Linked DNA regions of Homo sapiens: region 1 is linked to region 2. Evidence: fine-mapped expression QTL. A gene starts in region 2. The other region holds a variant in brackets. All regions are shown on one strand. Distances are from middle to middle.

Evidence for each region. PIP is the estimated chance that this variant, and not a neighbour inherited with it, causes the effect.
Region 1: its variant is fine-mapped to the expression of GALNT6 in whole blood (INTERVAL, PIP above 0.99).

Annotation. Positions count from the first base shown.
Region 1 is chr12:51,359,872-51,365,239 of GRCh38, reverse strand. It overlaps GALNT6 (polypeptide N-acetylgalactosaminyltransferase 6), which reads left to right. Exons shown (of 12, transcript NM_007210.4): 6 at 885-1,119; 7 at 4,402-4,519. Among named protein-coding and RNA genes, the nearest start is that of CELA1, 16 kb to the right of the region's middle. The variant A/G (reference allele first, on the strand shown) is at 2,755.
Region 2 is chr12:51,388,926-51,394,293 of GRCh38, reverse strand. GALNT6 (polypeptide N-acetylgalactosaminyltransferase 6) reads left to right here and starts at 2,888. Exons shown (of 12, transcript NM_007210.4): 1 at 2,888-3,007; 2 at 3,357-3,444. It also overlaps a transcript of SLC4A8 not described here. RefSeq lists enhancers at 408-497, 2,541-3,125, 3,126-3,711, 4,673-4,762 and a silencer at 2,316-2,855.

The sequences.
Region 1 (5,368 bases), 29 kb after region 2:
ATCCCTAAAACAACTGGTGACCCCAAAATCACTGGAAGTGATTTCCAGTGATCACCGGGGCCCCGGACATTCATCCCTCCCTGTACTCCCATCTGCACCTTGCTCTGAGCTTGGCCCCTCAGAGAGGCCTCCTGCTATGACAGAACTGGCTTGTTTGGGGCTTTCTTCTAGGGCAACATGGAGCCAGGAAGGCCTCCTTCTTGCCCAAAACCAAAACACTTCCCCACTGTTGTGGAGGATGAAATATTTTCCCTAGGAGTGGTGATATATATTAGGGGAAGCTCTAGTCTTGGAGTCAGAATTCTTGGTTTGCATTCTGACCCTGCCCCACTAACAGCCTCAGTTTCCTCATTTATAAAATAGGAATGAGGATACTAACCTTACTGAACAGAAATATTACTCTGAGGGCCGAATGAAGTAATAATACGTGCAGAAGCTCACTGAAAATCTCAAGGAGCTAGACAAATGAAAGAGATTATTCTTCTACAATTAGGGCTGAAGCTTGACATGCGGATGCCCCTGGGAGGGGGAACACCCTCTTCTGAAATCCACACGTGGGCCCGGAGGGCTGGGCCAATGGATCGGCTGGAACCCCGGAAGATACCATCCAGGGCCTCCCTGTGCTTTTGGGTCATCTGAGTTGACCATGTTACTCCCCTGAGACCTCCATTCTCCCTGCCAAAGCTGCCTCCGCCTTTGGGGGTAGAGGGGTGGTAGAAGGGTTTTAGGAAATTCTGTGTGCTCCCTGTAGCTGTGGGGCTTGCTGCCTGTAACCCAGGAGTAGGTGGACTGTCTCTTATCCTCCTGGGCATTCCCTCCAGGATGCAGCTTGGGCTCTGCTGTGGGCAGGGCCCTGACTGCTGCCTCCTGGTTGGGGCCTGCAGGTGAGTGCTTCCACGGCTGGCTGGAGCCCCTCCTGGCTCGAATCGCTGAGGACAAGACAGTGGTGGTGAGCCCAGACATCGTCACCATCGACCTTAATACTTTTGAGTTCGCCAAGCCCGTCCAGAGGGGCAGAGTCCATAGCCGAGGCAACTTTGACTGGAGCCTGACCTTCGGCTGGGAAACACTTCCTCCACATGAGAAGCAGAGGCGCAAGGATGAAACCTACCCCATCAAGTAAGGACCGCAGCCTGGTGAGCCCCCAACCTGGCCCCAGTCCTACCCAGTTCCAGGAACCTGTGCCATCTCACATCAACATTTGTTAGGTGCTCTATCAAGCACTTGACATATTGTGATTAATCCTCACTCCCTATGAAGCAGGTACAATACTAAGAATACTAAGGCTCATAGTGATAAACACTGACCTAAGATCATGCAGCTAGCAACAGTGGAGCAAGGACACACTTCCCGGACTGTCTGGCCCTAACCGTGGCACTGCTCTTATTCACCATGACAGTTTGCTCTTATTCACCACTTACCATGTGCCAGGCACTGAACTAAGGGCTATACATTCTTTAGTTTATTCCTCCCTACACATAAAAGGAGTGGCCCATGCTTGCAGATGGGGCAAGAGATGTGATGGAGGCCATTGTGGAATAGTCACTGTAATAAGAGGGAGTGGTATGTGCCCCCAGGTGACTGTCTTTGAAAAGACTGAGAATATACTAAAAGAAAACAGACACATTTTCTGCAGCGTGAAGTTTGTAGCAGTTGCCCTGAACTTCTTTGGTGAAGGGCCAGATGATAAATATTTTGGGCTTTGCCAGCCACATATAGTTTGCTGCATATTCTTCATCTTATTTATTTTTTATTTTTTTTACAAACATTAAAAAATGTAAAAATAATTTTTTGCCCCAGAGGCTTCTAAAACCAGGCAGCCAGATTTTGCCCACAGGCTCTTGTGTGCCAGCCCCTGAGCTGCAGGGTAGACAATTGGAAGTCAACCCACAGTTTAATGCCCACTGGGCTCACCTTTCCCTCTTATACTCACCCCATCCTCCCCTCTCCAGGCAGCCTGTTGGTGTTATTGGAGACTGTAAGTTTATTTTAACAGTTGTCTCAGACAAACCAAGTTGAGGAGTGACTTTTAGTGTAGCCTGTGGTTTGGGATTATTTGTGTCATTGTTATCTTAGACTGGCCAGTATACTTAAGGCTCAACTGAATATACATCCAGGACGGAGGGATGCAGAGGTTGGAGATACAGTAGCCAGAGATAAGAGGGAAGGTTTGAAAGGAGGAAAGGATTGGTGCTTCTTCCTCTCCACGTGCCCAGAATCCTAAAAAATGCTGTCCATGCCAGGCACAGTGGCCCACACCTGTAATCCCAGCTAGATGAGAGGCTGAGGTGGATTAGGTGGATTGCTTGAGCTCAGGAGTTTAACAACAGCCTGGGCAGCATAGCAAGACCCCATCTCTTAAAAAAGAAAAAGAAAAAAAAAAAAACCTGCTCAGAGTCCCAGTAGAAAGGAACTCAGGTGAATGCCACAGGGAGAAATCCCACAGATCCTGAACAGCCAGCTGCTCTGTCTCCATTAGAAGGAGAGAGGGAAAGGAAAAGGCAAAAGAGAGAAAAGAAATTGGAACTTTCCACTGACCCAATGTTTGTTTCATAGCTGCCTTTTGTTTGGTGTGCACTGCAACAGATCCCCACCCCCACCCCCATGCCAGTGACCAGGCACACAGCAGCACAGTCAGAAAGAGGGCACCTGGCCCCCACCCATCACTGACGTCGCAGGCTTCAATGTCCAAGGGCCATACAACTGGAAGACAAAGCTCCAGTGTTTGAGGAATGAATGTGCTCCTTGGCCCAC[A/G]TGCCCCGGTAGCATGCATGGCTTGCCGAGGCTCTTCATGTAGCGCCCCCACCCCAGGAGGACTGCTGACAGTCCCCTCCCGGCCTCCCATCTCAAGCCAACCAGAGCCTAAGAGGAGAGGCAGAGGACCTGGGGGATTCTAGGGGTAGGCCAGGACATAAAGGGTGTTTACTAGAGGTTGCCTGTGGTTGTGAATTTACAGTGAAGCTTCCCATGCAGGGTTTGTCCTCATGGCTAATCCATCAGTGACTTCTCGGTCTGGGAGACTTCTCAAAGACAAGACTCAGGGCCTGTGGGGGAGGAAGCAGGTTGGCTTCCAAGTGCTCCTCTGCAGTTCCAGCACTCTCTGAGCCTCTCAGGGTGCTACTTGTGCCGGTTTAAGACCCCTGGGAGAGGCCAGAGCCTCTTCCAAAGTGATAGGAAGCCAGCCTGAGCACGACTGAAATTCCTTCCAGAAAGTGGCTGCAGGAGCCAACTTCAGGTAGACAAGAGCAACCACAGGGTAACACCAGGGTCACATTCCTGGGTAGGCACCTTGATGGATCATGCGAATGAACAGTGATTGGGCCCCAGCTGTGTGTAAGGCACCTAGATAGGTTCTGGGGTTACAGGGGTTCTGTATCTTTCTGCTTGGTTGTACCACATGAAGCTGCCCACTGAGGGCAGCAAAGCCCTAGCCATGCCAGGCTGGCCCAAACAGAAACCAGCAGCTGATGATTGTGCTCCTGCCATGTCTCACCGGCCCCCACCCCAGCATTCCATCTTGCTTATACTTCCCCGGGTCCGCTTCGATACCCTAACGCTTAGCCCAGTCCCTCTTCGAAGCAACCTGGTATCTAAATTCTAGGAATTAGATGTTTTTGTCAATTTATCTTATCTTGAGTCCACACCTCCCTGCCTGTGTCTGAAAGCCAGAATCTTTTTATAACCTTCTAAATGTTCCCTGTAGCCCAAATTGAGCTTGATCTCACCTGACCTTCCACTGTTTCCAGGAGCACCTTTTATCAGCTTTCTCTGTTAAAAGCAACTGGCAACTTCTCCCCAAATCTACAGTTTCTCATGCAGTGTAAATCACCAGGGCTAGGCGCCTACTAAAACTGTGGCTTAATAGTCCCTGAGGGGCAGGGGCCCTGAAACAGAATGGAGTCAGCCCAGCTGACAATATTCATTCATTCATTTATTCATGGTTTGAATCCTGCCTATTTTCAAAAACAATTTCACACAGCTTCTGAAAGTTGAGTATCTCCTAGGCTCCAGGCACTTTGCTGCCAAAAAGTAACTAATGGTAGCTTTAACCTCTGTGACTAGATTGAGCTCTGGGGGAATAGGATCTGTCTTTCTCCGTTCTGTGTGTCCATCATGTAGCACGGGCCCTGGTGGCCAGTGTTACGTGCATCCTAGGTTGAACGAATGAATGAGTGCCTTTTAGAGGATAATTACATATTTCCTTGACCTGGTCCTAGAAGGGGAAGAGGACATAGTAAAAGCTAAATGATGAGTGAGTTAGTGGATGAGGGGCTGCACGTCCTGAGAAAGAGGAAAGGAGGGGGAGGTGGGTTAGGAGGGGAGTCCACAAACAGCTTTCCCCGCCAGGCTCCGCTCCTCCTCTCCCAGAAGATGCACACACTTCTCCCTCTGTCTCTCCAGATCCCCGACGTTTGCTGGTGGCCTCTTCTCCATCTCCAAGTCCTACTTTGAGCACATCGGTACCTATGATAATCAGATGGAGATCTGGGGAGGGGAGAACGTGGAAATGTCCTTCCGGGTGAGAGTGAAGAGGGCTTTGGGGGGAACCACAACATCCCAGGCGACAGCTTGAGAAACATCTCTCAGGCAGAGGTGGCATCAGGGACATCCCATCTGGAACTGAACTAGAAAGGGTGGCTATTTCCCAGTGTGTCTCTTCCTCTTTTCTGCTCCCCCTGTCCATGGCAGTAGGGCTTGGGCAGTCAGCCTGGACAGCTCAAAACAAACTACTGGGCACAACTTCTCAGAGGCAAGGAATAATAGGGGTAATGAGGACTGGACATCTGGTGACTGGGGACTCTTTTGCGATGTCTGTGGGAAAGGGTTAGGGTGAAGATAGAAACAGGTTAGTATGTTCACAACTAGGGCTAGAAAAAAAAAACAGATGAGTAACCAGTCATCATCCTTTTTCTGGAAAAATCAGGCTCCCCTTCCCAGTTCAAAGGACACATGCCCTGGTAACCTTTGAAGTTTCCCTACCTATGTACAATAAGCCCTTCATAACAGTCAGAGAAGATGGTGGCCCCAACTCTGGTGGACCCCAGAACTCTGAGAGATTCCAGGAATTAGGCAAATCAGGATTAGGTCAGGAAGCAAGGATTGCCTCTCCATGAAACCTACACAAATCTCCATGCCATGGAAAAGTAATTAGTAAGTAGATGAGCTCATTTATGAAGTCACCTCTCACGGTGCCTGATGCATATTAAGCACGTAATTGATGCCTGCTGTTACTATAACGATTATGTATTTCTGTTGCTGCCACACTAAAATGAATAACAACATACTTTCCCACCTAAAACCCAAAAGAAGAAACCAGTGGGAGGGATGTCTTCAGCCAGCCCACCAGCATAGAAAAGGGTCACCTGCC
Region 2 (5,368 bases):
GCGTCAGCTGAAGTAAAATCAGATGAGTAATTTGCTTCCGGAATGCGAAACACACAACGCAGACTGCTGCTACTTCTTGGGAAGCTGGGCCCGGCCCTCTCAGGAGCACCAGGCTGGGGGTAATGGCCATGACCCTGTCCTGGGAAGGAATAGGGGCCATTCACCTCAGGTTAGGTTGGGTCCTGACTAAGGTGCAAGACTCACGTCAGGATCACACAACCCCTGAGGGTCAAAGGGCAGAGGTGGAGGAAGGACAGAGCAAAGACGGTAGGTCCGACCTGTACAGGGAGTGTTCAGCCCCAAGAAGAGAGACATGAGGGGCAGCATCCCACAATCTTCCACAGGAAGTGCCCTCATTCTGAGAAAGACAGCTGTCAAGTAAGGCACATGACAAGAATAGAAGCAGCTGGGGCAGTGAGGTGGAATCAGAGTCCAGAGGGTCTACAGATGGGCTAAGGGATGCTCAAGGAAGCTCTGTAGAAAGTCTCTCTAGGAGCTTAAAGCCCACGGCCTGGAATGTGAAAGGAAGGGAGTTGGTGGAAGGCTGCTTAGAGTTAGGGGAGTCGGGCATCATGCCAAGAGTGAGCAGATGAACCCCTTTCTACTCCTGGGAGAATGTCCATCCTTCACGTCACTCTGATCATGTGTAGCTGGGCAACTCTTCTTCTCCACACTCTGCTGGCCTTCTCTCCTGACTCCATCAAAGAACATCTCACCTTCTGAATAGATCAAACCTACCTTGGAGTCTCAGGTTAGAAAAAAAGATTACTTTCTTCATTCACCTGTTAACACCCGGCTGGCTTCCCTGCCTTTCCCAGTGCGTGTCAGAACTTCTTGCTAGGATCTACTCACTCATGCTCCTGCTCCCAGGTCTTAGGGTCTTAGAAATACAAATTCATGGCTGGACTCGGTGGCTCATGCCTCTAATCCCATCACTTTGCGAGGCCGAGGCAACAGGATGGCTTGAGCCCAGGAGTTTGAAACCAACCTGGGCAACATGGCGAAACTCCCTCTCTACAAAAAAAAGTTAGCTGGGCATGGTGGCATGCATCTGTGGAGGCTGAAGCAGGAGAACAGCTTGAGACCCGGAGGTCAAGGCTGCAGTGAGCCGTGATAGCTCCACTGCACTCCAGCCTGGGCAGTAGAGCAAGAAAAGAAAAGAAAGAGAGAAAGAAAGAGAAAAAGAAGGAAAGAAAGAGAAAGAAGGAAAGAGAGAGAGAGAAAGGAGAGACAGAGAGAGTAAGAAAGAAAGAAAAAAGAAAAAAGGAGGGAGGCGGGGCAGCAGAAAGAGGAAGAAAACAGAAAGAAAGAAAGACAAATTTATTTAAATATCAAAACAAAAGAGAAACTGAACTAGTGGTAGAAGTTTCTACCATAGAAAGTTTTCAAATTATTGGCTATTTGGAGTCATGCGCGCTCCTTCTCTGTTGCTAAGGCCCCAAAAGATTGCAGCACACGAGGCAGCGCCGGAGAGGACCACTGAGCAGCACGGGCCCTGGCGGGGTAATTCCGAACACCGGCTTAGGAGGCGGGTTTACCAGGATTCTCATTCCAGCCCTGCCACTAATTGTTCAGGGTTCTCAAGGTCGAGCATGCACAAAATCACCCGGAGGGCTTTTAAAACACAAGTCGCCGGGCCCAACCCGAGTTTCGGAATATTTAGGTCTGCGGTGGGGCCCATTTCTTTTCTTTTCTTTTCTTTTTTTCTTTTTTTTTTTTTTTGATACGGAATCTCGCTCTGTCGCCAGGCTGGAGTGCAGTGGCGTGATCTCGGCTCACTGCAACCTCCCCCTCCCGAGTTCAAGCGATTCTCCGGCCTCAGCCTCCCGAGTAGCTGGGATTACAGACGCCCGCCACTACGCCCAGCTAATTTCTTGTATTTTTAGTAGAGACGGGGTTTCACCATGTTGGCCAGGCTGGTCTCGAATTCCTAACCTTGTGATCCGCCCGCCTCGGCCTCCCAAAGTACTGGGATTACAGGCATGAACCACCGCGCCCGGCCAAAATTTCTAATAAGTTCTCAGGTGATTCTGACTGGCGCTGCTGGTGGGGGATCCCACTTTGAGAAACACCCTCTGCTGTGTGAGCAGCTGCCTCCCCGGTACATTCGGAATAATCATAGTAGGTTTAAAGTTTGCTGGGGCTGGGATTCACCTGATACCTGGCACTTGGAGCCCTTGACACAGTTCATGGCACACGGAATACGAGCTCTTGTTGGATGGAGCACAAATGAGAAGCAAACCTGGGGCAGGACCCCGGGGCCCATGGCCGCCCCGCCGCGTTTCCCCCTCCGGGGCAGGCCTCCGGGCTCCGAGCGCTCCAGGCTGGCGCGCAGCACATTCCGGTTCCATGCACCCGCCGCCCGCGGCTCTGCTAATGCCTGTCCTCTTTGGGGTGACTAGGACCCTCCAATCTTTTTCCGCGCTGAAAGCCTGGCCGCAAAGACCGCACCCCCGGGGCGGGCTGAGACGCAGAGAAGCCGGGGCGCCCCTCTGCCGGTCCGCCGGGAGTTCCCGGGCCCGCAGCAGGCTGAGGACACGGCGGGACCCGCTGCACCTGGCCAGGGAGGGGCGGGGCGGGCGCGTTAGTGCAGCTGGGGGAGGTCCCGCCCCGGTCCCACCCTCCCGGCCGTCCGGTGGGGAAACCCGGGAGCCACCCCGCGGCGCGGCTGCGGCTTTGCCTCGGCGCGACAGGTAAGCGGCAGAAGGAGCCCGCGACCCTCTCCCCGGGAGGGCCCCCCTGAGCTCCCCGACTGCTCGGACTTCCCTTCGGCGGATCTCGCTTCTGCCGAGTCCTCGCTCTCACCTCCTCCTCCGCCAGCCTTCGCCTCTTCCTCTTCCTCCTCACTACCCCCGACAGTAAAATGAAGGGGCTGGGCCAGGCTGGTCCCTCCTGCCTTCGCTCTCTGCTGGTCGCGGTGGCCTGTAGCTCCTCCCTCGGTAGGACCCCCCTCCACCTTGGCGCTTACGAGATGAATGAGGAGCCCAGACCTCTGGAACTTGGAGGGGTGAGAGGGGGACAAGCCAGAGCCAGGGCTCCACACCCTCTTCCCCTCACCCACCCATGCCCTGCATTCCTTCTGTGCCCCGTCTCCCCAGATCGGGCCACCCCATGTGCTCTGGTACGGCAACTCTTGCAGAGAGGTTTCCTCCTGCCCTGCCACGTTGCGCCTGAGCAGAAGGGGACAGCAAGGAGAAGCCTCGCTGGTGGAGGTCGGTCTGAGCCCTGCTTGGTTGAATTCCCTCCAGAGCCTGGGGGCTTTTGGGGGTGGGAAGGGATCTGCCTCCTGCTGTGGGGAAATGGAATCTGCTGGGTGTTCATGACTGTGACTGTCACCGACTTCCCTATTTCCTCAGTTGTTCAGATTCCCAGGCTGACAAAAAGGAGAAACAGCTTTTACTTGCATCCAGGGCCAATCATCGCAGACCCAGACGTCTGCAGAGGGTAGGATGGGGCTCTTCTGTGTATGGGGGTGGAGGGTGGTCAGTTTGCCCACAAAGCTTACAGCAGACCCCTTCTAGCAGCCGACAACCCATTGCAGCACTCTCAGAAAGGATGTTAACTCTGTGCTCTGAGCTCGCCCCCAGGCCCACACACACAATTTACAGGCACTGGGTGAGGTTCATAGTTCTGGACACACCAAAGAGCCTCGAGGACTTTTGCGCCTTCTACCAGAGATGTGTGTGCACCACACAGGCCCTATTCTCCGCTCCAGACAGATGAGCTGTCTCCCTTCCCATCAAAGGAAAGGTTAAGAAGGATGAGACAGGGAAATTCATGTGATGATGAAAACCAGGTCAGGTGAGGGGTTTGAAATATGCTTTGGTTCCGGCCACATGTGGTGGCTCATGCCTGTAATCCCAGCACTTTGGGAGGCTGAGGCTGGTGCATCACCTGAGATCAGGAGTTCGAGACCAGCCTGGCCAACATGGCAAAACCCCATCTCCACAAAAAATACAAAAAGTTAGCCGGGCATGGTGGCAGGCGCCTGTAATTCCAGCTACTTGGGAGGCTGAGGCAGGAGAATTGTTTGAACCTGGGAAGCAGAGGTTGCAGTGAGCTGAGATCGCACCATTGCATTCCAGCCTGGGCAATAAGAGCAAAACTCTGTCTCAAAAAAAAAAAAAAAAAAAAAAAGAAAGAAAGAAAGAAAGAAATATGCTTTGATTCCAATTGCCTAGCAGGAGCCAGTAGCATTGCAGGCATTTCCCTAGCTCCAGTTCCTTAATGGTGCCATGCACTTTAGGAACCCAGAGGTAATCAGAGAAAGTTGCTTCCAGGGGCACCAGGGCAGAGAACAGGACAAGACCCTCAAAAGAAAGAGGGAAGTGTGCAGGAGACTGGGCTGCTCAAGATGACCTCACCTCAGTAATGCTGCCCACAGTCCTACAGTGGGTGGAACAGCTGACTCCTACCTGTAGCAGCATGGAAGAACTCAGGGCAGAGAAGGGGAGGCCCTGATGTGTGTCAGGTGCCCTGTGAGGTCAGAAACATATTTGCCCAAGTTCAGCTGGAAGAAGTGGGGACAGGAAATATGAGCATGAACTTAGTCCATGCAACCATTGCCTCGAACAGACCTCAGGACCAGGAGGGGCAGCTAACCCTAGGGCTGAGGGCCTCTCAGTGCAGGGAGGCAGTGAGTATCATGAAGGCAGGCAGCTGACTCAGCCCTGTCACTAACTTCGATATATAATCTTAGCCAAAACACATAAACACTCCCTGGGTGGGGAGCAAATGAGAAGGTGTATATGAAGTGTTTTGGCAAAGCTCCAAGCACCAGTCAAATGCAAGACAATGTGATGTCATAGTTAAGAGAGTGGGCTTTGGAGATACATAGGCCTGAATGCAAATTCTGCCTCTGCCACATTTCTAGCTGTGTGACCTTGGTCAAGTTACTTGACCTCCCTGTGCTTCAGTTTCCTTCTGTGTAAAACAGAGAAGATAACTGTAACTTGATTTGATATGGTAAGCAGTAATATTTAAAATGGTGATGGTATTCTTCTTAACATTTTCTGGCTCCCACGGATGTGTTCCGACATCTCAGCCCTGGAAGGGATGCTGAAGACCAGGTTGGGTGTGTCCATGCCGTAGCTTGGGTGAACTCAGCTCTTTACACAGTCCTCTGCCCCTTTCTGGGAAAGCCCAAATGTTCATTCTCATTTGATAGGAACGAGAGTGAGGATTTGAATAAGCAGGAGGTTAAGTGCAGGGCAGTGCCTGTCTCTGTGTCGAGCTCAATGTTGTAATTGTGCTGTGTAAAAGGCCTGTGTGGTGAACAAGGGTGAGCTCACTCCAGGGAGGAGAAGGACTGTTAGAAGACTTTTGTGGCACCTGACAGCCCTGTGGGGTCAGCTTATTCTCTCGTACC